7 linked regions of the Homo sapiens genome follow. The protein of the gene in region 6 purifies or fractionates together with the protein of the main gene of each other region. This does not show direct contact. Each region holds a gene or a part of one and is shown on either strand. Other genes may lie near its edges. The genes, in order: ARID2, KIFC1, WDHD1, SMARCC2, RNGTT, NUP50 and KLHL7.

What was found.
Region 1: the proteins of NUP50 (region 6) and ARID2 purify together in Homo sapiens (affinity purification with mass spectrometry; 4 studies listed by BioGRID and IntAct, with this or other methods). This does not show direct contact.
Region 2: the proteins of NUP50 (region 6) and KIFC1 purify together in Homo sapiens (affinity purification with mass spectrometry; 4 studies listed by BioGRID and IntAct, with this or other methods). This does not show direct contact.
Region 3: the proteins of NUP50 (region 6) and WDHD1 purify together in Homo sapiens (affinity purification with mass spectrometry; 3 studies listed by BioGRID and IntAct, with this or other methods). This does not show direct contact.
Region 4: the proteins of NUP50 (region 6) and SMARCC2 purify together in Homo sapiens (affinity purification with mass spectrometry; 3 studies listed by BioGRID and IntAct, with this or other methods). This does not show direct contact.
Region 5: the proteins of NUP50 (region 6) and RNGTT purify together in Homo sapiens (affinity purification with mass spectrometry; 3 studies listed by BioGRID and IntAct, with this or other methods). This does not show direct contact.
Region 7: the proteins of NUP50 (region 6) and KLHL7 purify together in Homo sapiens (affinity purification with mass spectrometry; 4 studies listed by BioGRID and IntAct, with this or other methods). This does not show direct contact.

The regions. Positions count from the first base shown.
Region 1 is NC_000012.12:45,900,706-45,904,205, forward strand, and holds part of ARID2 (AT-rich interactive domain-containing protein 2), read left to right. Parts: intron 1-3,500. UniProt on the Homo sapiens protein: Involved in transcriptional activation and repression of select genes by chromatin remodeling (alteration of DNA-nucleosome topology). Required for the stability of the SWI/SNF chromatin remodeling complex SWI/SNF-B (PBAF).
Region 2 is NC_000006.12:33,405,323-33,408,822, reverse strand, and holds part of KIFC1 (kinesin-like protein KIFC1), read right to left. Parts: coding exon 3,192-3,500; intron 2,628-3,191; coding exon 2,337-2,627; intron 2,232-2,336; coding exon 2,158-2,231; intron 2,024-2,157; coding exon 1,948-2,023; intron 1-1,947. UniProt on the Homo sapiens protein: Minus end-directed microtubule-dependent motor required for bipolar spindle formation. May contribute to movement of early endocytic vesicles. Regulates cilium formation and structure.
Region 3 is NC_000014.9:55,017,100-55,020,599, reverse strand, and holds part of WDHD1 (WD repeat and HMG-box DNA-binding protein 1), read left to right. Parts: intron 1-3,500. UniProt on the Homo sapiens protein: Core replisome component that acts as a replication initiation factor. Binds directly to the CMG complex and functions as a hub to recruit additional proteins to the replication fork.
Region 4 is NC_000012.12:56,165,484-56,168,983, forward strand, and holds part of SMARCC2 (SWI/SNF complex subunit SMARCC2), read right to left. Parts: intron 2,712-3,500; coding exon 2,577-2,711; intron 217-2,576; coding exon 1-216. UniProt on the Homo sapiens protein: Involved in transcriptional activation and repression of select genes by chromatin remodeling (alteration of DNA-nucleosome topology).
Region 5 is NC_000006.12:88,614,119-88,617,618, forward strand, and holds part of RNGTT (mRNA-capping enzyme), read right to left. Parts: intron 278-3,500; coding exon 154-277; intron 1-153.
Region 6 is NC_000022.11:45,173,925-45,177,424, reverse strand, and holds part of NUP50 (nuclear pore complex protein Nup50), read right to left. Parts: intron 1,532-3,500; coding exon 1,345-1,531; intron 1,184-1,344; exon of another isoform or gene 1,043-1,183; intron 1-1,042. UniProt on the Homo sapiens protein: Component of the nuclear pore complex that has a direct role in nuclear protein import. Actively displaces NLSs from importin-alpha, and facilitates disassembly of the importin-alpha:beta-cargo complex and importin recycling.
Region 7 is NC_000007.14:23,126,285-23,129,784, reverse strand, and holds part of KLHL7 (kelch-like protein 7), read right to left. Parts: intron 1-3,500. UniProt on the Homo sapiens protein: Substrate-specific adapter of a BCR (BTB-CUL3-RBX1) E3 ubiquitin ligase complex. The BCR(KLHL7) complex acts by mediating ubiquitination and subsequent degradation of substrate proteins. Probably mediates 'Lys-48'-linked ubiquitination.

The sequences.
Region 1 (3,500 bases), on a different chromosome or scaffold from region 6:
CATTTAAGACCCTACATGCCTAAAAATGTCTGTAATCTACCCTTACTCTTGATAGTTGTTGGCTGTACATAACATTCTAGATTGAAAAATCATTTTTCTTTAAAAACCTGAGGGCATTGCTTTGGTGTATTCTAGCACCAGCTTTGCTGTTGAGAAGACTAGTGACATTCTGGTTCCCATTTCTTTGTATGTGATCTGTTTTCCCCCCTCTAGAAACTGTTGTGATCTCTTTATTTCTGAATATTCTGAGGTTTCTTGATGATGATGTGTCTTCGGTGGGTGTTTTGTTGTTGTTTTCATTGAAGTCATTATTTCATTTTGGTGGGTCCTTTCAATCTGGAGATTTATATCCTTCAGTAATGGGAACTTTTCTGGTATGTTTCTTTTTCTTTTCTCTTTTAGCTTTCTGTTTTCTCTCTGTTTAATCTATTTTTTGGAAATTTCCTTAATTTTTTTTTTTTTTTTTTTTTTTTTTTTTTTTTTGAGACAGAGTCTCGCTCCGTTGCCCAGGCTGGAATGCAGTGGCACGATCTTGGCTCACTGCAAGCTCCACCTCCCAGGTTCACGCCATTCTCCTGCCTCATCCTCTGGAGTAGCTGGGACTACAGGCGCCCACCACCATGCCCCGCTAATATTTTGTATATTTAGTAGAGACAGGGTTTCACCTAGTTAGCCAGGATGGTCTCGATCTCCTGACCTCGTGATCCGCCCTCCTCAGCCTCCCAAAGTGCTGGGATTACAGGCATGAGCCACCACCCCCAGCCGGAAATTTCCTTAATTTTTAAGAGCTTGTTATTGGTTGCCAGTTGTTACTATTTTATAACATCCTGTTCTTAGTGGTGTCTTCTCATCTCTCTGAGGATATTAACACCTCTACTTTTGTAGTTTTTTCCCAATCTGTGTATGGTTACTCTTTCCTTGTAATTCCTCAAATTTCTGAGGATTTGGGGGTTTGCTTATCCTCCGCCCCCCAAGACAAGAGTCTTGCTCTGTTACCCAGGCTGGAGTTCAGTGGGGCCATCATGGCTCACTGCAGCCTCCAACCTCCTGGGCTCAAGTGATCCTCCCACCTTAGCCTCCTGAGTAATTGGGACCACAAGCATATGCCACCATGCCCAACAGTTCATTTTTTAATTTTCTGTAAGGTGGGGGGTGGGGGAGGGTGTCTCACTATATTGCCCAAGCTGGTCTTGAACTCCTCAACTCAAGTGATCCACCTGCCTCGGCCTCCCAAAGTGCTGGGATTACAGGCGTGAGCCACCACGCCTAGCAAAAAATAAATTTCTTTTACCCTTCGTACTGTTTTGAGGAGGGAATGGAAAGAAACTTGTTTAAACTTGTTTTCTTAGAAGCTGATTTGTATCCTAAATGGTTTTTACTAGTGTTGCTTAGAAATTATTTTTATTATCTGTTAAGGATATTAGAGTGACCCAATATTTATTCTTTGTTAAATCATCTCAAAAAACTAACATGTGAATTTAGAAGTTGAAAGAATATCATTTTATAAAAAAACAAATTAGGCATGTTTTGTTTTATATCAAAACAAAGTGAGTGCTTAATTTTTTAAAACCTCAAAAAATTAAACATTTATATCAAAAAGGAAATTATTAGTTACTTTAAAATCATCCTAGTGATTTCAGTTTATTCTTTCTAGTTTTATCCATGCAATATTCAAATAAAAGAATACTTTTTAACATGTGACTATCACTTTGAAAAATATGATTTTGTTAACTTTTTGAAACTAAAGTCTTTTTTCTTTCTTTGTTAAAATATTCATTGATTGTGGGGAAAAACTGATTGTACTTTGTAAAGTTATTTTTATTTTGTAAATTTTTTTTTTTTTTGAGATGGAGTCTCGCTCTGTTGCCCAGGCTGGAGTGTAGTGGTGCAGTCTCGGCTCACTGCAACCTCTGCCTCCTGGGTTCAAGCGATTCTCCTGCCTCAGCCTCCTGAGTAGCTGGGATTAGTAGCCTCCCAAGTAGCTCCTGCCACCACGCCCAGCTAATTTTTTGTATTTTTAGTAGAGATGGGGTTTCACCATGTTGGCCAGGCTGGTCTCGAACTCCTGACCTCGTGATCCGCCTGCCTCAGCCTCCCAAAGCGTTTTGTAAATTTTTAAATCAATTTTTGTACAACTAATTTTTCTTTTCCAGAAAGATCTTAGAAATTTCATACTTTATTTTAAAAGTTGTTAAATAAAATTTTAAAGAAAATCATAAAGATTTTATAAAACAGAAGTGTAAAGTTCAGTGAATTATCACAAACTGAACCACTCATATAACTATCTGTCCAAGTTAAGAAATAGAGCAATATCAGTTGAAATCTTTCATGTTCTCTCCAATCTTTACTCCATCCTCCTCTCTATAAGGGACCACTATCCTGATCTGTGACACCAGAGGTTCATTTTGCCTGATTTTGAACTTTCTATATGTGAAATCATACAATATTATTTTCAGCATTATATTTTTGAGATTGATTCATGTTGTTGCATGATAGTATTTTATTCATATTATTGTATTTTTTTCTCTGCTTTTGATGGGCAAATGGGTTATTTCCAATTTGGGGCTATTAAGAGTAATGCTGCTATAAACATTCTAAACCATATTCTGTTTTTTGGCCATATACGGAACATATTTCTGTTGAGTGTTTTCAAAGGATTGGTGACTCATAAGATGTTAAAAGTTTGCTACATGATGCCAACCAATTCCAAAATGATTTTATCAATTGACACTCTATAGAAATGTATGAGAGTCTCAGCTACTCCATGTACTTGCCAACATTTGGTATTGTAATTAAAATGTTTAATTTTATCCACTCTTTTGAGTGTGTGATGGTATGTATATATGGAAACTACATAAAACTGAAATGGCCCAAAAAACATGAAAAGATGCCCAACTGTTTATTCTTCAGTCTCATTTTTTGCTCATTTCTTTTCCTTTGCTTTACTATAGTAAAAGTGACTCCAGTCCCTACATTAAATTTTGATTTTGAATTTTTGCATCTTTTCCATAAACTTCTTTTCTACAGTGTTTTTTAATTCAAAATGTACGTGTCTTCATCTTCTCTTTTTTTCTCCTGTAGTTTCTTTTATTCGGAGTTATTTTAATGAAGGCACCAAGGTTCCTGGGTAATCTCATGCTGGCTGATATTTTTTTTTAACATTTAATATAAAATTTTTCACACATAGGCAAATTTGAAATGTTTGCAATGAAATTTTTTATACCTGCCACCTAGCTATTACCATGAATATTTTAGTATACTTGCTTTATCACATATCTGTCCATTTATCCATCCCACAGTTCTGGGTGATTTTTACCATTTTTCTCAGCCCCCAGCATCCCTTTTTTTTAGCTAGATGATGCTCACTTTTATAATCTCTCATTATATAGATAGCCACATCAATATTGTGATCTTTTGGGTAGAAAATTTAAGATTGATAAGTTTTTAGAAAACAGCTTTTATGGCTAATGGGGCATTTAGGATATAGTTAAGCTAGATGT
Region 2 (3,500 bases), on a different chromosome or scaffold from region 6:
GGGTGGCTCACGCCTATAATCCCAACACTTTTGGTGGCTACAATGAGCTATGATTGAGCCACTGAATTCCAGTCTGGGCAACAGAGCAAGTCCCTGTCTCAAAAAAAATAAAAATAAAAATAACCCTCAGATAAACATTCATTGGTCACCTTTGGAAGCTGCTAGGATATCAACTCAATACTGAAAATCAATAAATAATTCAGCATTTATCTTGTTTTTCCTGTATGAATTGAATTTCAGAGAAACCAAGTAGATGGCAAGGCAAATGTCTTCATAAAAGAATCGTGACTAACCAATGCAGAACAACTAAGATTAGAAAAATCCCCATTTAGAAACCCCTTAATGAAATAAAGATCCAGGTATGGTCACTGCTGGATAAAATCACTAGGTGAAAAAGTCAATAAGGAGCTTGTAAATGGATGGGTCAGGTTGACAACACCCAAATATGATAAATAAGTGAAAGTATGGGGGAAAGAGGAAGCAACCAGCCAAAATCCAGAATAGTATATTCTATAGGACAAATGACCTTCAACAAACGACATAATAGTGGCAGTGTGGGATAGGGTTGTGGAACTTGAGACATTTCAACCAAGTGGGTGGCCCTTGCCTGGATCCTGATTTGAACAAACCTATTATGTATAAAAGACACTTCTGAGACAGTTGGGTGAAATTTAACATAAACTGGGTATTAGAGGATATTAAAGTTCATGTTGTTGGATGTTACATTGGTATAACATTAATAAAAAGTTAGAAAAAACATCACCACCCTCTAAAATTGAACTTGCAAGATAGTGAGGGAAACCCTCATCAAAGTAGAATACCAGATCAGGGTGCAGGTGCTGGCTACTCCACAGCAACAATCAGTGCTGACTGGGAGGAGGCCCAAGCGCACAGCAGGACAGACCTGATCAGACCTCAAATAAAGCCAGAGCCCATCAAAGGGCTATACGCGCAGGAGGAGGGTGTACCAGAGAAAAAAATTACTGTGGAGGCAGACAGTAAGGAAACTTTCTGACTTGCTTAACACTAGTGGAAGGAGATTCTAGTGGAAGGAATTCTCATTAGTGAGAATTCATATAGCCACTGGCTGACCCTCATGAGGTTTGGAGTCTGAATTCACACTATTTGGAATAGTCTGAAAAACCTCTAAGTCTTTGATCCAGTAATCCCATTTCAAGGACTATTTCCCTAGTTAGATGTAACTGAAAAATACAAAATGATGTATGTACAAAGTTAGTCAACGTGGCCTTGTTTGTGACTAAAAAAGTGTGGAAACAATCCAAGTGTCCAGTAGAGGGAACTGGTGGATAAATTTTGGTGCAGCTACATAGTGGAGTCTAGGCAGACCTAAAAATAATGATCTCTGTATGCTGATAGGGAGGAATCTTAGGGATTTTTTGTGTGTTGGTTTTTTGAGACAAGGTCTTACTCTGTCACCCAGGCTGAAGTGCAGTGGTAGGATCACGGCTCACTGCAGCCTCCACCTCCCAGGTTCAGGTGATCCTCCCACCTCAGCCTCCTGAGTAGCTGGAACTACAGGTGTGAGCCATTACACCCAGCTAATTTTCCTATTTTTTGTAGAGACAGGGTCTCACTATGTTGCCCAGACTGATTTTAAACTCCTGGGCTCAAGCAATCCTCCTGCCTTGGCCTCCCGAAGTGTTCGGATTATAGGCATGAGCTACTACGCCCAACCAGTTTAGACCTTTTAGTCACCTTTTCTTTTTTTTTTAATCAGCTTTCTCAGGTTAAATTAATCACCCGTTTTTTAAAAAACTTAACTCAAAAGCTAATAATTAAAAATGGAACCAGGTGAGCAGTGCCTCAGATACCTGCAAAACCTTTCTGCACAAATGTGCTCCCTGCCCTAGAAGACAAAAGGGATTGGAATGGAGAAGCCTACAACCACCCACGGGTCCTGACAAGGCTGACGGGTGGTAATCGCACCTTGGAGGCAAAGCGTAGAGAGTTGAGGGACTCGGAGACGTTCTCTTCCAGTGGAGAAATGTTCACAAACATGAGCCTATGAAAAGACAATGTGCCCAACCCCAGCATTAGGGGCCAGCAGAGCCTGGACAGGTCTCCACTGTTCCCCTTTCTACCCCTCACCCCAACACAGTTCCTACCTGACCCCTTCCATCTGTCCCTTTCACTCACATCTTAGCACTACCACCCAGAGAGTTCTGCAGCAGGTAGGTCAGTTTGCTGTTCCGGTAAGGCACGTGGGACTCCTAGATGATTGAGGTGGGGACAGATGTTTAGGAATAGGCAGGGTTCTGCACAGCCAACCCCAACTGTCCCCCAGGTCCCGTATCTCACCCCACTCCCATTCCCACCTTGTTGCTCAGGGCCATGATAACCAGCCCCAGCGTGGACAGGCTGCTGTTAATGGCCTGTGTTTCCCGAAGGCGTTCCCGCTCCCCGGGGCCGAGGGCTAAGCCGGGGTCAAGTCGCTCACTCCCGGCCAGGTCCACAAGACTGAGGGGGGCCCCACACTGCAGGCCTCGGCTGGAGTGCTCCCCAGAAATCTGTAGCTGGAATACACTGTGGCTGCGTGATGACCGTTCATTCTGGGCTGTGCGGGCCACAGCCCGATTCTGGCGGGCCAGATGAAGCAGGGCGTCCACCTGGGGATGGGAGCAGAAGGGGCAAAAAGGCAGGCAGAAGTCAGTACATAGTAATATGTATGGAAATGAATAAGAGCCCACCCCCACCCTCTTGAAGCTTTCTAGCCTGTCAAGAAACAAAATAAGATGCACAGTATGTCTGAAAATGGTAAGGAATACATAGAATAGGGAGTGTATAAAGGCGGGGTGGGGAACACAAGTTTTGACAGGATAGCCAAGATCTCCAGGAAAGAGCATCCAGGCAAAGGCCCTGAGATGGGGAGCACGACTAGCTGGTTGAGGAACAGCCAGGAGGCCAGCATGGCTAGGATGAGCTGAGCAAGAAGATGAGACATGAGATGTAGTGACCCTCCTCGTTTTGGCAGATGCATCACTCCCTCGCCACTCCCAGGTTAAGGCAGATCTACCGACAGCCCACAGGCCAAAACCGGATGTGGTAACCCAGCCTGATAACTTGCACTTCATCCTTCAATTCTCTCTTGCTCCTTTCTCCCTCTACCTCCATCTCGTGGCACCCTGCCCACTCCTCCCCATTTCCCAGTTCCAGTGCCCATGGGTCCTCACTTCTTTCTCACAGGAGACAGGGACATATCGAGCATTGGTGACAGTGAGCTCCTCACTCCCTGGCCCTGCACGGCGAATCTCACACTCGCCCCCTTGACCCTTCCGGGTTCCAGTGGCCAGCAGGTCCCGGACAGTCTCATTGTAGATCTCTACGTAGCTTGCTACAAAGCTGTAGGTCCAGCCCTGACCACTCAGCTCCTGAGCCACAGAGAAGAGGTGCCGCAGGGCCCGAGGGATCAGCCCCTCCAACTGGGGGTCTCCCCCAGGCCCACCCTCCATTGTGAAGGTCTTGCCACTGCCTGTCTGGCC
Region 3 (3,500 bases), on a different chromosome or scaffold from region 6:
CATAATATTTATTACTGTGAACTTGGATGAAGTCACCTAGGGAAGGAGTAAATATAGGTAAGAAAAGAGGTTCAAGGATACTCCAAAATATTTAGAGATCAAGTTAAAGAGGATCCAGCTAAGGAGACTAAGAAAGAGTAGCTAGAAAAGTAGAGAACTGAAAGACAAGAAGGATGTTTAGAAGCCAAATGAAGTGTTTGAGGAACAGGAAATAATAGACTCTGTCAAATGCTCCTGGTGAGTCAGGTTGAAGACTGAGAATTCACCATTAGATTTAGCAATGTGGAGGCCATTGGCAAGTTTTATGGAATGGTAAGAATGAAAACCTTGAAGTGGATTCAAGATAATGGAAGGGGAGGAATTTGAATTAGTGAGGTTGACACTACGTGGTTTTGATTTTGTCTCTAGTACCAGTGGGGTATAGAAAGTAATCAGTCACTACTTAAGAGGGCTGAAGAGGAAGCAGTGACCCCAGAAGAATGACCAGAAAGAAAGCTGAGTATATAGAGATTTTGCTTGTGCCTCACCATGAACCTCATGAGACTCAATGATTAAGAGTCAAGAAGAGGTGGTCAGATTAGGGAAGGAATGTTGCTCTCTGAGGATAGAGTTGAGGTAGTAAGAAATGCGTTGGTAATCATTGACTCCTTGAGGTTATGTCATAAAGCTGATGAAGTCTTGATATAATTAATCTTCATGCCCAGACACTGATAGCGGATTTCTTTTTTGTTGAGATGGAGTCTAGCTCTGTCGCCCAGGCTGGAGTGCAGTGGCACGATCTCGGCTCACTGTAACCTCTGCCTCCTGGGTTCAAGTGATTCTCTCTCCTCAGCCTCCCAAGTAGCTGGGATCACAGATGCCCTCCGCAACAGCTGGCTAATTTTTGTATTTTTAGTAGAGACAAGGTTTCGTCATGTTGGCCAGGCTAGTCTTGAACTCCTGACCTCAATTGATCCACCAGCCTTGGCCTCCCAAAGTGCTGGGGTTACAGGCATGAGCCACCACACCCCGCCTTACTCTTTATTATTTTAAAGTAAATCCCATACATCTTATAACTAAAATCTGGTTTATTGGGGGTAGAACCTAGTAGAACAATGCTTTAGCAAGAGTCATGAATCAAAAAAGAGAAGGCACAAATAAAATAATATTAGAGATAAAAAAGGTACAATATAGGCTTCAAAATACGTGAATACATTGACACCCTTATGCCAATAGTTTTGAAAATTTGAAACAAAGGTATAATTTTCTAGGAATATGTAAATTAACAACTTACCCAGTTTACCTAAGAAAAAAATAAAAATATTTATTTACATTGATTATCCAAACATTAAACATATGATCTAAATGTTAACATATGTAAGATAATCATTTCTGGTACATATTTATGTGCTTTAATCAGTTTCTTAGCCTGTCTGTCCCATGGTATTGCTGATATTTTTCTGAAAAATATATTTTTAATACAGTGTTATTTTAATTTTTCTCATAAAAAATTAGCTGTAGCCTTGTTTAGAGTTGCATTTTATGCTGAATAAATTTGAAGTTAAATCTTCAATTCTTTTCTTTTTTTTATTTGTTTGAGTCAGAGTTTCACTCTTGTTGCCCAGGCTGGAGTGCAATGGCACCATCTCGGCCCACTGTAACCTCTGCCTCCCAGGTTCAAGCAATTCTCCTGCCTCAGCCTCCCAAGTAGCTGGGATTACAGGCATGCGCCACCATGCCTGGATAATTTAGTATTTTTAGTAGAGATGGGGTTTCTCCATTGTTGGTCAGGCTGGTCTCGCCTCCCAAAGTGCTGGGATTACAGGCGTGAGCCACCATGCCTGGCCTAGACTATAATATTTTTTAATGAGAAAAATGTTAGGTTCTAAGGTACTTGGCAGGCTCAGAGCAAATTCTACTAGCTGGGAGAGTCATAATTTTTAAGAATTTGTTTTAATTGAAATGGGTAAATACTTCAGCCTCAGTATTTTTATAGGTTCTGTCTTTTTATCTCCATTCAGGGTACACTTCTTCAATAATAGGGTCTTCACTGTTTTTAAGGACAAAATTCATCAAGTTGTCTATGATTCTTTTGGATGTTTCACAGATTTTAAGCCTACTCTTTTATTTCATTCTGGCACAGAACATAAATTAATACAATTAAAAATAGGAGTTCTATCAAAATATTCTTCCCACAAGTCAAGATATTCCAAAGTACAGTTACAGAATTTTAAAATGAAATCATTCACCATTTCAGCTTTTCATGTACAATTTGTTCAATTCTTATTTGCTTTTGTAGGGATAAATTTCAGTGTCTTCCTGTGCATAAGTTTTGTTTTCATGAATTGCATTTCACTAAAAGCTTCAAAAGCTTAAGTTTAATGCTTTGATTAAAGATGTCTGTTTTCAACTAAATGCAACTAAGATTTAGAGGACTTGTTTCTAATAATAATAATACCATTATTACAGTAGGACACTTAGGTTGTTTTACAGAGTCGCTCGCTCTTCAAAGGCTTAAAGATTTTAAAAACCCAATCACTCCAAGCAGAGGGAGAAAGTATGTCCTGCAATGCTAGTATTTTTTGTGTATTTAATTAACATCGGTTTGTGCGCTGCTGAGGTGGGAGGATTGCTTGAGGCCAGGAGGTCTAGTAGTTTTTCTGTATATCACATTGATTTGTGTGCAGCTGAGGTGGGAGGATTGCTTGAGCCCAGGTCAAGCCTGCAGTGAGCCGTGGTAGGGCCACTGCACTCCAGCCTGGGCAACAAAAACAGAAACAAAACATGTTTTTTTCAAAAATTCTGTTGTTCAGCAATTCTAGATATAAATAAAATCTGAAAATTTGACAAGTATGGCTTCTTTTTTGTTGGTGTGTTATCTTGCAGCTCATTTGGATAGAATCATGAATTGTAATTCCAAATTCAAGTACTTTTGTGTTTCACAGATTTCCTAATATAGTAAGAACATTGATTTTTCTGGCTGGGTGCAGTGGCTTACGTCTGTAATTCCAGCACTTTGGAAAGCTGAGGTAGGTGTATCACTTGAGGTCAAGAGTTCGAGACCAGGCTGGCCAACATGGTGAAACCCCATCTCTATGAAAATACGAAATTTAGCCAGGTGTGGGTGGTGCGTGCCTGTAATACTAGCTACTTGGGAGGCTGAGGCAGGAGAATCACTTGAACCTGGGAAGTGGAGGTTGCAGTGACCCGAGATGGTGCCACTGCACTCCAGCCTGAGCAACAGAGCAAGGCCCTGTTTCAAAAAGAAAAAAAAAGAATATTGATTTTTCCTACAGCACTGTAGAAAACAATAAAATTAATATGTAGTTATTTGATACAATAAAGGATAAAACCATTTAGAAGAATGTTTAGACTACTCTAAAAGCACTTCTTTCGCAGGACTGCTGAACGCTATTTCCTGCCAAAGTTTGTATTTGTATTACTGTAAAAATTAAGAATTTTATCATTAGTGTTAAACTTTTCAAATAAATTTAGATAGAATCCCCACTGATGTCAGATAT
Region 4 (3,500 bases), on a different chromosome or scaffold from region 6:
GGCTGGAGCCACAGCCAAGCCATGGACTGCGGGTGGCCCAGCAGCCCCTGTTGGGGGGATAGGCTGGGAGCCTGGGGGCAGGGCTGGTGGTGGCTGCTGCTGCTGTTGGTGCATCTGTTGGAAGTGCTGCTGCCGAGCCCTCATCTCCGCATACTTCAGCTGCTCCATGTGGAAGGCTTGTCTGTCGGCCAGGAGCTGCTGCCTCTGATACTCCAGCTGCCAGTGCCAATTGAGTATTGTTATCCAATTTTCAGCAGATCCCAAAGGCAAATGCCTCAACCCCTGCTTTGTCTTCTTCTGAAAGAGCCTGCCTCTCAATCAGAAGGTTCCCAAAATCTACATCTTGTGCTTGTGCTCCCTCTGTCCTCCCCACCCGACTTCGTGCAAATTCCCATGACCTTTATGTCTCCTGAGTGCCCACATGGTTTCTTATTGCAATGACTTTAACCTGGCCCAAGCTCACTTCAGCTACAAAGCTTTGAACTTGCCATTACCTTGATTTGGAAAATGCTTCCAGTTCCTTTTGTCAATTCAAGTTCTTTTCTTACTTCAAAATTCACTAAAAAGTCACTGTTCTTAGGAAGCTATCCCAGATCAATTCATTTGCCTCTGAGCTTTAGCTTTATTCTATGATCTCAGGACTTAGAAACTTGATGTGCAATCTCTTTATTTTTTTGAGACTGAGTCTCACTCTGTCACCCAGGCTGGAGTACAGTAGCGTGATCTCAGCTCACTGCAACCTCCGCCTCCCCGGTTCAAGCAATTCTCCTGCCTCAGCCTCCCGAGTAGCTGGGATTACAGGTGTGTGCCAGCATGCCGGGCTAATTTTTTGTATTTTTTTATTCTTTAGTAGAGACGGGGTTTCACCATGTTAGCCAGGATGGTCTCGATCTCCTTGATCTCGTGATCCACCTGCCTCAGCCTCCCAAAGTGCTGGAATTACAGGTGTGAGCCACCGCGCCCGGCTGATGTGCAATCTCTTAATGTGAATTTGTCAGATACTTTAAACCTTCTTAACTGTTTCTGATGTCTCCATATTGTATATTCATTTGATGTCTCCCATTAAACCTTAAGTTCTCTGAGGTCCCTATCTTCTATTTCTTTTTCTTCTTTTTTTTTTTTTTGAGATAGGGTCTCACTCTGTCACCCAGGCTGGAATGCAATGGGGCAAACATGGCTCAGTGCAGCCTTGACCTCCTGGGCTCAAACGATCCTCCCACCTCAGCTTCCTGAGTAGCTGGGACCACAGGCTCGCACCACCACGCCCGGCTAATTTGTTTATTTTTAAAAAATGTTTGGGCTGGGCACGGTGGCTCATGCCTGAAATCCCAGCGCTTTGGGAGGCTGAGGTGGGCGGATCACCTGAGGTCAGGAGTTTGAGACCAGCCTGGCCAACATGGTGAAACCCTGTCTCTACTAAAAATACAAAAATTAGCTGGTCATGGTGGCATGTGCCTGTAATCCCAGCTACTCGGGAGGTGAGGCAGGAGAATCGCTTGAACCCAGGAGGCGGAGGTTGCAGTGAGCCGTGATTGCACCACTGCACTCCAGCCTGGGCGAAAGAGTAAGACTCCATCTCAAAAAAAAAAAAAAAAGCGTGATGACTCACCTGTAATCCGGCACTTTGGGAAGCAGAGATGGGCTGATCACCTGAGATCGGGAGTTCGAGACCAGCCTGACCAACATAGAGAAACCCCATCTCTACTAAAAATACAAAATTAGCTGGGCATGGTGGCACATGCCTGTAATCCCAGCTACTGGGGAGGCTGAGGCAGGAGAATCGCTTCCCAGGAGGCGGACGTTGTGGTGAGCGAAGATCACACCATTGCACTCCAGCCTGGGCAACAAGAGCGAAACTCTGTCTCAAATAAATAAATAAATAAATAAATAAAATAAATTGTTGAGACAGAGATCTCACTATGTTACCCAGGCTGGTCTTGAACTCCTGGGCTCAAGTGATCCATCTGCCTCAGTGTACCAAAGTACTAGGATTACAAATGTGGGCCACTGTGCCCAGTCCCTATTGTCTATTTCTTTTTATGTCCTCCAAAGACAAAATGGTTCAACACTGTGTCGGTCCCATTCCCTTTCCAAGTTCACCTCCTGGATCTGAGGCTCTTACCCTCTCTCTCATCATCCGTTACGCCCATTCACTCAATCACTATTTGAGTCTACTATGGGCCAAGCACTGTTCAAGGACCTGGAGATGCAGCAATCAAAACAACCAACTAGAGTCCCTGCCTCATGGAGCTGACCTTCTGTGGGACTTCAGTCCCCAGACTTCACTTGTGAGACCACTTAACTGTCTCTAACTGGCTGCCCTACTCCTGCCCTGTTCCTGCCCTGCTCTGCTTTGAAGCCCTGTCTGTCTCAGGCTTTCCCCACTGTTGCTTATCTTTCACTGAAACACACACACACACACACACACTCAGGCTTTCCCCACTGTTGCTTATCTCTCTTTCACTGAAACACACACACACACACACACACACACACACACACACACACACACACACGCCCCTCCGATTTTAAACTGAGGCACAGCGCAGCAGGGTTCCAGGGCTCCTGCTACTCACTGCTTCTCGCTCCCGGTCCATGATAGTCTCCAGCTCCTCAAAGTGCCGAAGTTTGATCTCCAACTTTTTCATCTGGGTCTCCACCAGCAGGGCCACCAAAGATTTGATCTTCCTTTCCTCAACAGCAGCCAAGTGCTAGGGAAGGAGGGGCGAGACAGCACATCAGTGGGAGGACCCAACTGAAGACAATACAGAAGAAAGGTAGGGTGGATGCTGGCAGGTATAAGAACAAATTTGCTGTGGTCACAACCCATGGTGAAAGGGCTTGACTTTTTTGTGCTGGGATTATAGGCGTGAGCCACCGTGTCTTTTTTCTTTTTTCTTTTTTTTTTTTTGGGACAGTCTCACTCTGTTGCCCAGGCTGGAGTACAGTGGCATGATCTCAGCTCACTGTAACCTCTACCTCCTGGGTTCAAGCAATTCTCGTGCCTTTGCCTCCCCAGTACCTGGGATTACAGACATGCGCCACCACGCCGGCTAATTTCTGTGTTTTTAGTAGAGATGGGGTTTCACCATGTTGGCCAGGCTGGTCTCAAACTTACAACCTCAGGTGATCCACCTGCCTCAGCCTCCCAAAGTCCTGGGATTACACGCGTGAGCCACTGCGCCCAGCCTTTTTAAAAAATTAAATTATTTTGGCCAGGTGTGATGGCTCATGCCTGTAATCCCAGCGCTTTGGGAGGCTAAGGCGAGCAGATCACTTGAGTCCAGGAGTTTGAGACCAGCCTGGGGCAACAGGGTGAAACCCCATCTCTGCTAAAAATACAAAAATTAACCGGGCATGCTGGCACGTGCCTGTAATCCTAGCTACTTGGGAGGCTGAGGTGGGAGAATCGCTTGAACCTGGGAGGTGGAGGTTGCAGTGAGCCGAGATTGTGCCACTGCACTCCAGCCTGGGCAACAGAGTGAGACTCCATCTCAAAA
Region 5 (3,500 bases), on a different chromosome or scaffold from region 6:
GAATACAGACTTGACGTATCTTTCCCATCAAACAAGGATGAAGTCCAAATGACTATGCCCCATTAAGCAAAACAACAAAGGCAGCACACTTTGGGTCTAACACCTTAATTTTTGTTTTAAATATAATAAGCACTGGTAAGTTGTCATACTCACCCATGGCAGTGTTGTAGGCATTAGGAAAACTTTTGTCTGTTCTCTGTCTCATGAAGACCCAGCTGTTGTTCTCAAATTTGCATTCTATAATTTTGTTGTCATACTGTTTCAGCTCTTTTGTCACCTGTTTTGAAAGAGAATTGAGGAAAATATTTAAATAACTTGAAAGGCTTTTTGCTTCTACTATGTGACAGGCACATTAGGAAATGATAAAAATACCTCAGTAACTCTTCATGCAGAGAGCTCTTTGTCATCTGAAGTATCTAATCAAGCTTAAGGTATGGTGTGCACTCCCTTGTACACATGCTCACTTATCCGACATTTTATAAATAATTGTGAAAATGGCTGTCAATATATAGCAATTAAAAGAAGCTAGGCAGAAACCAGCCATGCTGGGCCAAATGCAAATATGTTACCATGGGGACCAATACCTTCAATATTGTCTGTGTCTCTACGGCTTTCAGAAATTGAGTATACTGCCTAGGTTTCATCAACTTTCAGAAAGGTCTAACCATCTAAATTCCTATGTTAAAATCTAAGAAATGCCGTGTACTAGTTAAATGAAAAAGTTACATATCAATAGTGAATACTAGGATCAAATTCAGGCAATGTACATCCTAAATATTTTGCTTTCCAAGCAGTGACAATTAACCAACAATCTAATCTTCAGGAAACTTAGCCTTTCCATCCCCAAACTAGTACAAATTTACAGATGAAGCTATTTGTGACATTAGTTGATGGGTTTTTTGGCTTCTTCACCTCAGATGACTGAATATGGATACTCTATCAAAGCTAACAAGTATCCATGGTAACTACGAACCTTTTAAAAGATATTTCACTGGGCTGTGAGAATGGTTTTCATAAATAGGAACCTAAGCTTATCTTTGTAGTTTTCAAATCAAATGCCAGTCATGGTAATATTTTAATTCTGTCCTCATCTTTCATGGCTAACAACTTTTCCTCACAATATGGTAGACTGCAATCATTTAACTTCATTAGCATTATCTGAAACATTCTCATTTTTCTACCCACATATTCACTACCACCTAGGAATATGACGAGAAGTAAGTTTTTAAAAGATGCTTTCAATTCGCAGATTAGGCAGCACATGTCTTCATAAAAACTTTCAAACTATATTCCTTTCCCTTTACATTTGATTGTACCATCTGCATTTTCAACAAATCCAACAGGTGCAATACACTCAGTGGTTTTGGAACTAGACATGCCCAAAAAAGTGATATTCCAAGTAGCAAACTTGCCAAATTTATCCTCAAATATTCATTATTTTAGTCTCAATTCTCTTGCCTTGCTTTCTAGGGACCCATTCTTTTATTTTGGAAACACTGTGTATATGCAAGTATTGGACAACTCATTCAGTTAGGTAAACACAGTTTTGCTATACCACATGTAAGGTCTAACAGAAATAAGTTTCTAAACCTTTCAGTGTCTATTTCCTAATTTCTAAAATGGGGAACAAGTTCCTAATTTACTGGGTCACTGAAAGAATAATAATTGAAAGTGCCTGGGACATAGAACAATCAGTAAAATTGTTAACCAAATATAAAATTAGGCAATGAAACATTGCTTTTTAAAATCTGTGGTAAAAAAACATTGAATTTTCCATCTTAACCATTTTTAAGTGTACAGTTCAGCAATGCTAAGTGTATGTCTAGAACTTTTCCATCTTGCAACACTGAAATGCTATACTCCCTAAACACTAATTGCCCCCCTTCCCCTCTACCCAGACCTTGATAACTGCCTTTCTACTTTCTGTTTCTATGATTTTGACTACTTTAGATACTTCATACGAGTATTAACAGAATCACACACTATTTGTCCTTTTGTGATTGGCTTGTTTCACTTAGCATAATGTCCTTGAGGTTTATTCATGTTGTAGCATGTGACAGAAATTCTTTCTTTTTAAAGGTAGAATAATATTCCACTGTATGTATACACCACATTTTCTTTAGCCATTCATCTGTCAATGGACACGTGGGCTGCTTCTACCTCTTGGCTATTTTGGATAATGTTGCAAAGAACGTGGGTGTGAAAATATCTCTTTGAGATCCGGTTTTAAATTATTTTGGCTATACACCCAGAGGCAGTATCACTGGATCATAATTTTATTTTTAATCTTTTGAGGACCCCTTTGTTTTCCATAATGGCTGCATCAATTTACATTCTCACTAACAGTATGCAAGGGTTCCAATGTCACATCCTTAACACCTGTTAGTTTTTGTTCCTTTTTTTTTTAAAAAAAATTGACGCCCATTGTTTACTGTGCTCTAATTTAAACTTTTTGTTCTTTCATAGTGGCCATCCTGATGGTGTCAGGTGCTATCTCATTGTGGTCTTGATTTGCATTTCACTAATGACTGAGAATCTTTCCATGTGCTTATTGGCTGTATACTTTCTTCAGTATACTTTCTTCAGTATACAAGAAACTTTGTCAATTTTTTTAATTGGGTTGTTTATTGTTGTTGAGATGTAGGAGTTCCTTATATATTCTGGACATTAACTTCTTATCAGATGTACAATTTGCAATTATTTTCTCCCATTCTGTAGGCTGCCTTTTCACACTGCTGATTGATTCCTTTGATGTACATAAGTTTTTAACTTTGATGTAGTCCTCTTTGTCTATTTTTTATTTTGTTGCCTATGATTTTGGTGTTGCACACAAGAAATCATTGCCTAATCCAATGTCCTAAAGATTTGTCCTGGCCGGGCACAGTGGCTCACGCCTGTAATCCCAGCACTTTGGGAGGCCGAGGTGGGCAGATCATGAGGTCAGATCGAGACCATCCTGGCTAACACAGTGAAACCCTGTCTCTACTAAAAATACAAAAAGATTAGCCGGGCGTGGTGGCAGGTGCCTGCAGTCCCAGCTACTCGGGAGGCTGAGGCAGGATAATGGCATGAACCTGGGAGGCGGAGCTTGCAGTGAGCTGAGATCGTGCCACTGCACTCCAGCCTGGGCAAGAGAGGGAGACTCCATCTCCAAAAAAAAGATTTCTCCTATGTTATCTTTTACAAGTTTAATAGTTTAAGGTCTTATGTTTTGGTCTTTATTTTTGTGTTAATTTTTGTATATGGTGTAAGGTAGGGGTTCAACTTCATTCTTTTGCATGTGGATATTGCTTTCCCAACACTGTTAGTTGAAGATATTGATTGTCCCTTCCCATTGTGTAGTATTGGCGCCCTTGTGGCAAATCATTTGGCCATATATGCAATGATTTATTTCTGGGCTCTCTATTCTGCTCCATTGATTTGTATCTCTATCTTTATGCCAGTAATTAAGTATGCCATCTAAATTAGATGCTTTGAAGTATGTTTTGAAATCAGGAAGT
Region 6 (3,500 bases):
CAAATCGCTTGAGCTCAGGAGTTTGAGACCAGCCTGGGCAACATGGCAAAACCCCATCTCTACAAAAAATGTAAAAATTAGCTGAGTGTGGTGGTGTGTACCTATAATCCCAGCTACTGGGGAGGCTGATGGGGGAGGATCACTTGAGCTCGGGAGGTTGTGGCTGCAGTGAGCCAAGACCACACCAATACACTCCAGCCTAGGTGACAGAGCGAGACCCTGTCTCAATGCAGTACTCTGGGGATGAGAAACCAGTGGATACGAACACTCACTTTTCCTATCTAAGAGTTATGCTGGTCTGACTATGGGACTTGAACATCCAAGGGGGTGCTGAAACCAATCCCCAGGATACTAGGGGATGGCTGTAGTTAAAAATCTTAACAGAGGCCGGGCACAGTGGCTCGCGGATGTAATCCCAGCACTTTGGGAGGCCAAGGCAGGTGGATCACAAGGTCAAGAGATCAAGACCATCCTGGCCAACATGGTGAAACCCCGTCTCTACTAAAATTACAAAAATTAGCTGGGCATGGTGGTGCATGCCTGTAGTCCCAGCTACTCGGGAGGCTGAGGCAGGAGAATCGCTTAAACCCAGAGGCGGAGGCTGCAGTGAGCAGAGGTCGCGCCACTGCATTCCATCCTGGTGACAGAGCAAGACTCCAACTTAGAAAAAACAACAACAACAACAAAACTTAACAGAGAACACTTATTTTACATCACACTAAACATTCTGCCAAATTAAAATCAAACAGTATATACTCTCAGAATAATCAGCTAAATACAACCCAACCAGTCAGGATCATTTCCAAGCTTTTAACCCGTGATCCTATTCTCTGTTGCTAATTCCAAGAGTTTTTGACTGACTCCCTCAAAACAGGATCAGGCAATCAACACATCCCATACCCAAACAAACCTAGCGTGGGAGGCACCCTGGCCACGGAGAACCGCATCTGAGTTCCCAGTAGCCAGTTTGGTGCGAGGCACACAGAAAGCCCTTGGCACACAAAGGGTCTACATAGCATTTTCTTTTCTCTCTCGACTCTAGGTCAATTCTGAGGGCCACTCTCCTTTCAAAATTGAACATTCTGAGGCCTAGAGGCCAGGGTCACACAACTGGTAGCCAGCAGAGCTGAGAACAAAGCTGAGATGTTTTGGATCAAAAGCCTGTGCTCTACCCACTTACTCTGTAAGTAACCGACACCTCCCTAAGTTCCATCTCTTTCATTATCACCCTGGTTTTGCTCACACAGTTCCAAGACACAGGGTAGCTATAAGAAAAACATCTTTGTAAAGCTATTTTCCATAGATGATACTTACACAGGCGGCTGGGGGATGGGAGCTACTTACCAAAGGCTACCTTGGGATCTGCCGCTGCCTTTGCACTGGCGAAGGGAGGGGCACTGGTTATGTTGTTTCCATTCGACAGTCCTTCCAAAGGCTTCCCTCCAGCGCCACTACCAAATCCAGAAAAGCGTCCTCCTCCAGAAGGTACCACCAAACCTTTAAAACCTTTAAAGGCTCCTCCAGTGTCAGACTGAAGTATGAAGGAGGAGCACACATTAGGTAAGTGTACTTTCTATTACCAAAAAGCAAGTGAGTGACAACAGCATCTTGGCTAAACAGCACCTAGACTCCACATGCAGTCAGCGTTATAAGGCAAACTGCTGGCACAAGCAGAAATAAGAAATGAGATGGGAAGATTGTATTCATAAGAACAGCTTTGCAACCCAAAGCTGCTTTCCTGAAACAGGCAGGAAGGACATTTAAAAAATATATTATGTGTATTTTTAGGACATAAAAGGTAAGAAAGACTAATGCAATAAACCTATGTACCCACCACCCAGCCTCAGAATTACTGAAGCGGCTCAATAAAACTAAATCCCAAATGAAAGATACTTCATGTACTACTCAGTCAAAGACCATTTACTGCCTAAAGAAATGATAAAAACATCAAGGTAGGTTAACTAAAAATATCCATTTGCCTAATTTCTTAACATCTGTGGCTTGCAACTGCTTTCAGCCTACAAAAACTTAGATGATCGAGTCTCAAATCTACATGTTCCTGTTAGCTGAACAACCCGGGACAACTTCTTACTCTCCTTTTCCTCACTGCTTCCTTAAACTCGATTGTTTTAACAAGGTTTTTCTAGTAGGCCTTTTCCCTTTGTGCTAGCCTGCTCACATCTCTAACCTAAGATGCTCTGGAAATGTGTGGCATTCCGTATGAATTCTAAAGCTCCTCTCTGCCCCTGGAACTTTTGGAGAAAGGTTCCTCGGTTTATAGTGCTTTGCTAAATAAACTCACCACAATTTTTAGAAGCCCTTTTTTGTTGTTGTTCGAAGAAGTGATTACATTATAGGAAGTGATCTGCTTCTTAGACCGAACATCTAAGAGACAGTTCACAAATCTTAAGTTTCCACATGAGTGAATTATAACCATGATTTCACCAGAAAAAAAAAAAAATTAAACTGGAACCCCTTCATTTACTAAATGGGCCAGTCAGCCTAAATATTACTGCATGTTTTTCCAAAACCAAAGTTTCAATCTCATCTACAGAATTTCAGATGTTTACTGACCACTGATATATTTAAGGCAATAAAATGAGGCAAAGAATGGAAAATTGTAACTTGTATGAGTTTTAATGCACATAATAAACAGAGCTTAGATTCTGTTGCTCTACATTTGATTTTTCATCATTTAAAATTCCAAACCCGCCACACTGATAGCTGTCATTTTAAAACAATGATTCATGGACAAACTATAAAGCCATTAAGTGGCTTTTCAGAGCCTCCGATTTTGCACAAAGTTAAAAGTCACTTGTAGGGATTTTAGAAATTGCTGATAGTAAATTGGCTCTAGAATCACAACAAAAATTCAAGAACCACAAGTTAAACAAAAAAAAGATATTCAGAAAAATGAGAGTAAAAGTTGATTAAGATATTCATCAAGGGGCCAGGTGTGGTGGCTCATGCCTATAATACCAGTACTTTGGGAGGCCGAGACATTCAGGTCACTTGAGCCCAGGAGTTTGAAACCACCCTGGGCAACAGAGTGAGACCCCCTGTCTACAAAAATGCAAAAATTAGCTGGGTGTGGTGGCGCATGCCTGTAGTCCCAGCTACTCAGGAGGCTGAGGCAGGAGGATTGCTTCAGCTCAGGAGGCGGCGGTTGCAGAGAGTCAAGATTGTGCCACCGCACTCCACCCTGGGCGACAAAGACCCTGTCTCAAAAAAAAAAAAAAAAGGGAAAATACCCATGTGGGCTCCTCCATGGGCACTGACACAGCCCCACATCCCTCAATTTCCCTCATTGGTTTTACTGTTCCCCATGGCACTTACAGAGGAAAAATTAATACTATGTATTTGTTCTCTTCCATAGGGCAAGATGATTTTGGTCTTTTTTACTCACCAATACATCTCCAGTGCTTAGCAGATCTACTGAATCCACTATTTAGGAAAAGCCGCATTTCAGCATTCTGGTGGGTGACATGACATTTAATTGT
Region 7 (3,500 bases), on a different chromosome or scaffold from region 6:
AACATGACGTTAAATCTTGTTGGTTTCTGCTCTGGAGAGTGTTTCCAACATCCCTGTTTTTTTCTGGTAAAGTTCTGGGACTGGCTCCATAAGTCTTCAGTCTCTTGATAACTGTGTCTCTGGTCTATTATTCTCAGGCCGAATGAGAGGCTTCCCAGTCAGATCAGCAATACCCACAGTTTGGGGACGGTTGAATTCAATGTAGTCGACTCGGCCACTAGCTAGATGAACAGCAAGCAGTGAAGTGTTGTTTAAATGACCTCCAAGGGCACATACAAGTTAATCATTGTGTCTATCTGATAAGCTCATCTAGGGCTTCTGCCTATGGCAGTGTCCTTGGAAAACCAGCTATATTAGGTGAGATTTTTCAGTTCATGAAGGGCCAGCCGAGTCGTAACATCATTTGGGATGAGTTTCCCTTGGTCAAGAAAAGCCTTGGCTAACATACCAATTTATGTGCCCTGTAGCATGTTGTCCTGGAGCAGTCCCTGCTGGAGAGGTGCCTCAGCTTGAAGTGTTTGGTGATGTACAACAACACAGTGCCCTTGCCTAAGCCCAGGTCTGGGGCCCCCATGATCACTGCATGCAGTAGCTGCGGAGATGCCCCTGCAACCATGGACAGAGGCCCAGGCTGTGCCAACTGTAGGGCTTTCGTCTGACCTGTGCACTCACCTGATCCACAGCCAAGGTCCCAGATGGTAGAAAGCACTTTTATTTTTTTTTGTTCAAGTTAACCAGTGCTTTCCTTTTCCTCTATAAAATGTGCTGGCTTGGAAACAATTCAAACATTCACCCATCAGTAAATGGATAAACACATTTTGGTATATCCATGCAATGGAATATTATTCAGCCATAAGAAGAAATGAAGTACTGATAAATGCTACAATATGGATGAACCCTAAAAACACTGTGCTCAAAGAGGCCAGACACAAAGGGCCACCTTTGGTATGATTCAATTTATATGAAACACTCAGAATAGGCAAATTTATAGGGGCAGAAAGCAGATTCATGGTTGCCAGGCCTGCCAGAGGAAGAATGGGGAGTGACTGCTAGTGGGTGTGGGAGTTTCTTTTGGGACCTGCTAGCTGTAGGGTCACTTTTTTTTTTAATGTGGTAAAATACACATAAAACTTACCGTGACATTTACTACATTTGCAATGTTGTACCACAGTCACCACTATCTAGTTCCAGAATATTTTTATCACCCCAAATGTAAGCTCTCTTTTGATCTTTGAAGGTGAAAAATATCACTAGAATATATCTGAGGGAGGAATATCTTAGTTCATTGATCAGGTTTAATACTCAGTATAACTTAGTCCGAAAGTTAAAGTTCTTTTTTTTTTTTTTTTTTTTTTTTTTTTTAAACCCAAAGAAGTCGTAGTCTTATTTGATTATTGCTTTCTCCATCTGTTCCTTCTGGAACTCCTACCTCACACTGCAGTTCCTGTATCTTCCTTCCCTTTCTTTTATCTTCTCACTAGTGGCTTCCTTTGCATTTTTGTTTCGTATCATGAGGCAACTTCCTGTTTGATCTTCTTCGGTTTGAGTTTTAAGAGTATCGATTCTATTTTTCAATTCAATTGAATGTCAAAAAACTGTAAAACCATATTTTTACACATCGTATTTTTAAGTTTGCTTTTTTTTTTTTTCTTGAGACAGAGTCTCACTCTGTAGTCCAGCCTAGAGTGCAGTGGCGCAATCTCGGCTCACTCACTGCAACCTCCGCCTCCCGGTTCAAGCGATTTTCCCGCTTCAGCCTCTGGAGTAGCTTGGACTGCAGGCGCGCACAACCATGCCCGGTTAATTTGTTCCCTTCTATTTCTCACATTAAATTTGCCTTACAGGAGCCATTCATTTTGGCTGTTTAGCTTGGTTTTCTGTTCCTCAAACTACTGTTTTTTTTTGTTTTTTCCAAGACAGGGTCTCACTGTCTCATGCAGCTGGAGTGCAGTGGCAAGATCTCGGCTCACTGCAACCTCCGCCTCCCGGTTCAAACGATTTTCCCGCCTCGGCCTCCGGAGTAGCTGGGACTACAGGTGTGTGCCACCACGCCTGCACTCGGCTAATTTTTGTATTTTTTTGGTAGAGAGGGGTTTCACCATGTTGGCCAGGCTGGTACTGGGTTTAATTTTTTACATGATCTTTGCCCGATTCCATCAGCTGCCACCGGTTCCTTTAGCATTTGTGGAAGCTCGATTGATGGACTCTTTCTGGGCAGCAGAGAATTGACAGGTGGTGAAAACTAAGCTAGGAATTATCCAATCAGCTGACATTGAGAGCCATGCTCAAGGCTAAACAGAAAGCAAGCAGAAGCAGTTTCCCTAGTTATTGGGCTATGGCACTTGGCTCACCTGGCTGGGCCACTGTCTTTGCCAGAAGCTTAGCCAGGAATCAGGCTACTTTCTAGGTGGCGGGGCTGTCCTTCCTCCCAGCTTTGTGAACAGTAAGGATAGAAGGTATCCAGAGGCAAAACTACTAAATGGTCTCCTCAGAAGCCCAAAGCCTAAGATGTGCTTAGCACAGACTCACTCCAGGTTCCACACTATGCTTTGCACCACCACATCTACTACCTACCTATATTTCAGCCATTCTTCTTTGTAGTTGAATCACCCCAGGAGGAAATTTAGAGTGCTAGGGAGTTATAGAAACATACATAAGCCATCATTTCCAAAAACTTAATTAAGGTAATTCCCCGTTTATAGTATTGTCTGAAGATAATTATTTATATAATGGAAGTAACCTTAAGTCTTAGGAATATAAATCTTATTGATGAGTGAAGCCCCAATTACGGCCCAAAGAGATGGAAGGACTCATGCCAGAGTGTCTCTGCTGTACAGGTAGGATTAGAGATTGGCCTTTTATTTTCTAATATAGGGATCTTTTCAATATGTAGACCCATGGCTACCTTTTAAAAATTCCTTCAGTATATTCACCTGCATAGCTATTTCTCTTCCTGCTCCATCTAGTCCAATCCCTTTTCTGGATATTAGGCTAAGTCTCATTTTTATTCCCTTCACCTGACTTTTACTTCCTCCTGAAATTTATTCTGCTGCTTTCCACCTGCCTTCCAAGATCTCTCTCTCTGTGCTCACAGTGAGGGGGTATGCAGGAAGGAGTACTAAAGTGTCCGGAAGGAGGAAAGCCTACAAAAAGTAGGGACAGAGGAGACTTGCCAAAATTCTGAAGCATCTTCAGGAGCCCTTTGCATCAGTCTTTGCGTTCTTGTCATTTAGCACCCCTCTTCTTTTCTCCTGGGTCAAATATCTTAGCACTGACTGGATTCTTTGACCCCTCTTTATACTTTCCTTCATTCTACTTTTCTTTCCTCCCTGCTTTCCTAGCACTCCTATACCAGCGCTCTTCCCTTTCTTTAAAGCCTCTGAATCACAACAAGCGTAGGAAAATGGAATTAGAGTAGTCCCCCTTATCCATGGTTTTGCTTTCTGTGGTTCAAAAACATTAAATGGAAAATTCCAGAAACAAACAATTCATATGTTTGA